2 linked regions of the Homo sapiens genome follow. The protein of the gene in region 2 purifies or fractionates together with the protein of the main gene of each other region. This does not show direct contact. Each region holds a gene or a part of one and is shown on either strand. Other genes may lie near its edges.

Region 1 (3,500 bases), on a different chromosome or scaffold from region 2:
TGATCATCCTGCCTTGGCCTTCCAAAGTGCTGGTATTAAACAGGCATAAGCCACCACACTAGGCCTTCTCTTCACAGTTTAAAACCCTCTCAACTATACTTTAGGTTTATTTTCTTACCAACACTGCTGGAAAAATTTGACAAGATATAACTTAAGTATTTCAGGTTAAACTGCTTTTAAATTACAGGTATGAATTTTATTAGCATCTTTTGACACTAATAGAAAGCATATGTCAAAACTTCAATTAACAGTTCATAGATTGTTCTGTGATGATCAAACAAAGCATATTTTTAAAAACAGAATCACTTGAAAGTGTACTGCCTAATAACAATCTCCTGTGCTTCTTTAGGAAGCACTGCGTTTCTTAAAATTCAGCACAGTGGTTAATTAAGAGTGTTGGAGCCAGAGTAGGGTCCCAAACCCAGTTCTGTCAACCTACTACTTAAAGAATTATTTCAGTGAAGTGACATTCCCTCTGAGCCTCGGTTTACTTCTCTGTAATATTGGAATAGTAATGTTGCCCCCATAGGGCTGTTACAAGGACTGAATAAGATAATACACCTGGGATGCCTGGCACCCTGCCTGGCACCGGGGAAGCCCTCAGTAAACAGGGATATTATTAATACTATTGTTATTTTTGAGAGACAAACGGCTGAATCAGGGGGGCAGTGAATAATCATCTGGTAGGTCAGATGATCAATGTGGCTAAAGAGGGATGAATGATTCAGACCTGTATTTCTCAAAGTGAGTTCTGTGACTGGGTGCTTGTTGATATTGCAGATTCTAGGGTGGGGGTCCAGGAACTTGCATTTTTAGCAACCCTGATGTGCATTAAAGTATGAGATCCATTACTCATCTAAGAGCTGGGTAAGCCCCAGTTCTGGGTCAGGAGTACTCTATTTTCCTCAGGTTCACACTTTCAGCCATGGAAATAGAAAAAATTATCTATGTATTCCCTCACCTTTTTCTTTTTATCTGCTCAGAAAGAGGCTGTGATTAGAGAGTGAACCTAGTAATTATATCATATTGCATATTTAAAAGGTAGTATAAAATATTTTCTAATATTTGCGAAGCTTAAGACAAAAAAAAAAGATCAATGATTACTAAAGGCTCTTCTGTAATGCATAGTATAAATATCTTGTTCCTCCGGGCAGAGATGAGATGCTGAGTGCCTAGAAGATATGGACACTTGAAGAATCTATGGACGAGCACTGTTATGTTTGCTTGGTAGGGTAAAATCGAAATTACTAAAGTATATAGATGAGACTGGCAGAGTATGCTGAAAAACAAGGGAGATTTTCTTAGACCAGGAAAAGCATTCCAGATCCAGAGAGAGCTCCCTTATTGGAACACAAACACAGAGACTCCTGGAGCGACCAGTTGGCTGATTTCGAGTGTACCATATTACTACCTGCTCTATCTTTTCAATGAAGAGCTTTTTGCTACCTAGCACGGGCAGTTTCTTCTTTCTGCAGCCCTGACAATGAACACCCACCACTCTGGGTCATTCATACTCCTCTACCTAAAGAAACAAATGGCCAGGTGTGGTGGCTCATGCCTGTGCACTTTGGGAGGCTGAAGTGGGAGGATCCTTTAAGCCCAGGAGTTTGAGACTAGCTTGGGCAACATAAGGAGACCCCGTCTCTACAAAAAATAAAAAATTAGCCAGGTATAATGGTGCATGCTTGTAGTCCCAGCTACTCGGGAGGCTGAGGTAGGAGGATTGCTCAGCCCAGGAATTTGAGGCTGCAGTGAGACATGATTATGCCACTGCACTCCAGACTTGGCAACAGAGCAAGATCCTGTCTCAAAAAAAAAAAAAAAAAAGGACTGGGCATGGTGGCTCATGCCTGTCATTCCAGCACTTTAGGAGGCCCAGGCGGGCAGACTGCTTGAGCTCACGAATTTGATACCGGCCTGGGCAATATAATGAAACCCCATCTCTATTAAAAATACAAAAATTAGCCAGGTTGTGGTGGTATATGCATGTAGTCCCAGCTACTCAGGAGGCTGAGGTGGGAGGATCTCTTGAGCCCGGGAGGTGGGGTTGCAGTGAGCCAAGATCGTGCCGCAGCACTCCAGCCTGGGTAACAGAGTGAGACCCTGTCTCAAAAATAATAATAATAATAATAATAATAATAAATAAAAAAATAAAAAGAAATAAAAAGAAAAGCTGCCCTTTTCTGAGGGACAGCTCAGATCTGTCAGAAAACAGCGATACCGTTGACCATCTAATTGTAGGTCTTTATGCTTAATGAGTATCTGAGGGTGGGAAAGTACATTTAATCAGAGCTGGGGCATAGACTTGGGTGACTACTTATTTGAAAATCTGAGTATTTATTTGAAAAGCCTTGAATACCCGGCATGATCATCTCAATTACTATGCATGCATTAGTGAGCAATGACATGAATGAGAAAAGTGAAACACATTTTCCTTGTGCCCTAAATTGTATTATCCTTTCTTTTCTTAATTGTTTGATATGTATACAGGAAAAGGAGGCTCCTATTGGTCACTCCTTTATGAAAAAATCCCCAGGGAGGCTGACCCAGCTGCAGTGGTCAGAAGGGATATTTTTTTACCTTTGCACTTTCTGGATACTCTTCCGGGGTTCGGTGCAGCAAGACGTGCCCTTTGTTGGGGATATTTAGATATATACAGTTTGCTGCTATGTCATCAGGCACAGTGAGTTTGTCGTAGCGGTGGTCACTCATCTGTTGCATGATCTATAAAGAGAAACAAAGCAGGCCTAAGAAGAGTAACTCCCCACACTTTCAAACAGAAGGAAGGCAGTGTGGTAGGATACAAGCTTGGAACTGACACTTTAGGCTGTTCCTCTGTTCAAATTCCCATCTATTACCTCCAGTCACTTAGAACCAGAAAAGGAAAACTTGATTAAGCTATGAGTCTTTGGAAGAATTGCAAGGGTTTTTGTTGCTCTTTAAAAGTATGTGTTTGTCTCTCTTTTCTTTTAAGGTTTTAAAACCGTCTATTATTTTTCTAGTCTTTGTTCGTAAGACTTATCAGTAAGATGCAAAATGGCCACATGTAAGGCCCAGCAGGGGTTTTGATATCTTTGGCTGAGTAAGCAGGGCTGCCTCCTCTATAGGAAAGAAGGGCCATACCAGTAATCAGAATAGTCAATAATGTGAATCTGATTAATCAGTAACACCACACGTGTGTGCATGCACGTGCGTGCGCGCGCGCGCGCACACACACACGCTTTGCTCTTCCACATACTTTTAAACTGAATTCACCTGTTCATTGGCAGGTGATGGCCTTAATACAATGAGCATAAAAGCCACCTGGGGAGAATAAGAAAATCATATTCCCAGGCCTCACCCTTAGGGAAAGCTGGTTTGGCAGATTTTGGGTGAGGCATAGGAATTTTGCATTTTGAAGCCCTACAGATAATTTTGAGGCAGAGGTTCCCTGGACCACAACTGGAGAGAAAAAAAAAAAAACCTACTTGGCAGGTCTGTTCTTCAAATGATGAACTTAT
Region 2 (3,500 bases):
CTGACGTTCTAATTACTCTTGCGGATGTTATCAGACCACGCAGGAGATCATGCCGCTGCACATGCTCCACCCACCTCATGAGAATGAGAAAAGGAAGCACAAGTCAAGGTGATCCTTGGCACTTCCACAAAACGAAAACTAACACACCCTCCAGGTTCCTTTATGGGGTCAGCACCCAAGCAGCTGTACTTTACACCATCTGCACCTGCAGATGCACCTCCCATGTGGCAACGTAATTCAGGTTCACCACCCACAATGGTGTCTTCAAGAAAAGGGCCACGTTCTGTTTATCCTGAATTATGATTAAAAATACTAGGAAAGGGAGAATATATTTATACTCTGAAATATATCCAAGTACACATGTGCGATACATCTTACAAAAACTTAGCTTTCAAAAAAATTAATGCAGAAGTTTCTCATACTTAAAAGTATCAGCTTTCCAGAAGGATACACTCCCTGGAAATTCCGGAAAGCTGGTATTTTAAGTTCAACTTGAATCTGAAAATATGAGAGTTCACCTTTACATGTCTGTATTAGTACAAGGAACAGAGTTTCATGATCCTGCTCTGTAAATCACCAACACCAAAAGCACGGCTGTCTAATCAAGGGGAATATGTCGAAGTTTAAAGCTCTTAATGAAAAACAGTACATCATTGAACCATCTTACCTGTCGACGAATTACTCCAAGGTCTCTCTTGGCTTTATTCACTAGGGTTTGAATTTCTACAGGATCCTTTACATTTTTATTTTCTCTGAAGGCATCTCTTATCCTCCTGACAGCATATGTTCTAAATGAATTCAGAGGAAAAAAAAGAAAAGGTGTCAGCGTGTCTGAGGCTATGCTTTCAAATGAATTTTAAAGTTTTTCCTTTAGAATTAACTGTTTAATCTTCCCCTACGGATAATCCACTTTGATCTTTGCTCGTGGCGCAGGCTGATCCACTACCATTCTGGGATGACTAAGCAAACAGATTTAGGAAAATAAATCTACTCAACAAGTCACATACAAATGGCAAACTGCTACTGAAGTGTTCCTTAGATTATTGGTTCTTTAGCCTTATTCACATCTGGCTTCATTCCATTTACATGGATAATTGAACCTTTAGTGTACAGAGACAAATCAAGAACTCAGAGGTTAGCGGCAGTGAACCATGATGGTGCTACTGCACTTCAGCCTGGGCGACAATGCGAGACCCTGTCTTAAAAGAAAGGAAGAAAAAATTCAGAGGTTACATGACGATCGTATTTGCATGTACCCAGATAGTGACCTATGCTTTCCAGTCCTTGTCCCATATTCTGGCTCTCACTTCCCTTTCTGTTGTCCACATTAGGATCCCACCACAGTTGAACCTGTGGAATTAGGCCAACACGCTTTCTTTACCTCCATCTTGAAAGTGCACACGCCTACCACCCACCCCCAACCAGACAGCTCACTTGCAGTACAGGACAGCAGTTCCAGAGCAAGGCTTGCCCATCGGACAGGCTTGGGTTTGTAGCCTTGCTCCAGCTTCTACTGTTTGTGTGAACTTGGGCAAGCTTCTTAACACAAGGCCGTGTCTCCTCATCTGTCAAAAAGGCATAATACTGCTAAAGGCTGCTGGGAGGACTAGGCTTTATAATGTGTGTCTGGAATTTGGCCCAAAGCCTGTTACATAGAAAGACTCAATAAATGAAAGCTATTCTTCTTAACACTTGTTATGCCTTAATGCAATTACTGTTCCCTCTCCTCATGCCATAACCTTGCCTTCATCCTGCATCCTTACAGTCACACCATAGTGTGTGTACAGAAGGTAGAGTGGTGTGGATAATTAGCCACAACAGACAGCTCAGCAGTCCTTAGACACAGCCTCATACTCAGATGGCTATGGCCTATCTCTAGCTCTACCCCAACTACTCCAGATTGAAAGGCATAAGACTAAGGAGAAGCAGACTGAGCCAGGCATGTGAGACACCATTTTCTCTATGTTTTTTTTTTCTTTTTTAGAGATGGGGTGTCCCTCTGTTGCCCAGGCAGTGTCATGATCATAGCTCACTGCAATTGCAAACTCCTGGGCTCAAGTGATCCTCCTGCCTCAGCCTCCAAAGTGGCCAGGATTATAAGCACCCACCACCACGCCTGGCTAATTAAAAAAAATTTTGGGGGATGGGGACTTGCTGCGTTGCCCAGGCTGGTCTTAAACTCCTGGGCTCAAGCTATCCTCCTGCCTTAGCATCTCAAGGAGCTAGGATTACAAGCACACACCACAGTGCCTGGCTCTCTCGTCTTCTTAATGATCACAGACTGCTCTGCTTTTAACTTGGAGCACCGGTTAAAGAATCCATGTGATGCCAGTAGTAATATTTAGCAACAGAAGAATGGAAATACAGGCAAAGAAATGAGAGGAGGGGATATAAATTTCCTTGGGAGCAGCGCGGAGGGGGTGTTGGGAGCTCATATAACTTATTGGGAAACTTTATCTTAAAAAGGACAAATTGTTTCAGATAAAGTTTTTTAAAGTAAAAAGGCATTTTACATTAAAAAATTCAAATGTCAGGTCTATTTGCATTTAAAAGCAAGAGTAAAACTAAATCTTATGATACTAGGAATCATAAAGGAGAAGGGAAGAGTTTAGGAACCGGTACTTAGAATGTAAGACACTGCTGAGACTTTGATCTTAACCCTCTGTGAACCAGCTGGAGTATTTCAGAGGAGCTGCTGAGCGCTCAGTATCAATCCTAAAGGGCTACAGCGATTGGGCATGGAATCCATGTACTAGCAGCTGCTAAATAACTGGGGCTCATTCACTTCTAAAGGGATATGGGAGGATTTTACAAATGGAATACATCAGATACAGACTCTCCTCAGGTGCAGCTGCTAATCTAACAAGATTTTAGATAGCAGCTAGGTAAATTAACAGCAATTTCTGGCACTTTCTTGCATAGCCTAATGGCTATTTATAAAACACAGCATCACTGTTCTTCTTGACAACCACATACTCCTCCAAAGCAGTTTCTTTTTTGGCAATGATGGCAGCAAAGAGGGGACAAAATAATTTAATTCTAATATTTGTTCCACAGGCAAAATTGGTTTATAACATGAATTTACCTCCAGGAATCATCTATTGTTTAAATTTTTCATTTCGTATGCTGCATGGGCTTCTTGGAAAAACAAAATGGGCAACAGTAGCTATTGCTAAACTCATTTTTCTAAAAGCTAGTAACTAGCTTAGAATAGCTAGGAAAAAAGGAGTACTGTTTGGAATGTAAAGACCTAAGGTCTTCCAAAGTTTAAGGAAATGAGAAAATAGCTTAAAACACTCAACAATTTATATCAACTGAGCTCAAGGCCCAGGGTCAGGATATTCTGCTATGTATACTTGTTTGTCTCCCCAGCTCTCCAAAGTCCTTACCTAAAGAAAAGCAGCTCTAGATCTTGGAATTAAATGTGTCTAAAGCAATCAAGAGTCATGATTCAAATTTTCGATGCACTTTCGAGATGAATGCTGTAATGGTTCCCTCCT

Evidence for each region. Proteins that work in one complex are often made in the same cells at the same time.
Region 1: the proteins of LYRM4 (region 2) and DDAH1 purify together in Homo sapiens (affinity purification with mass spectrometry; one large-scale study listed by BioGRID and IntAct). This does not show direct contact.

Annotation. Positions count from the first base shown.
Region 1 is NC_000001.11:85,322,160-85,325,659, forward strand, and holds part of DDAH1 (N(G),N(G)-dimethylarginine dimethylaminohydrolase 1), read right to left. Parts: intron 2,725-3,500; coding exon 2,581-2,724; intron 1-2,580. UniProt on the Homo sapiens protein: Hydrolyzes N(G),N(G)-dimethyl-L-arginine (ADMA) and N(G)-monomethyl-L-arginine (MMA) which act as inhibitors of NOS. Has therefore a role in the regulation of nitric oxide generation.
Region 2 is NC_000006.12:5,215,951-5,219,450, forward strand, and holds part of LYRM4 (LYR motif-containing protein 4), read right to left. Parts: intron 789-3,500; coding exon 668-788; intron 1-667.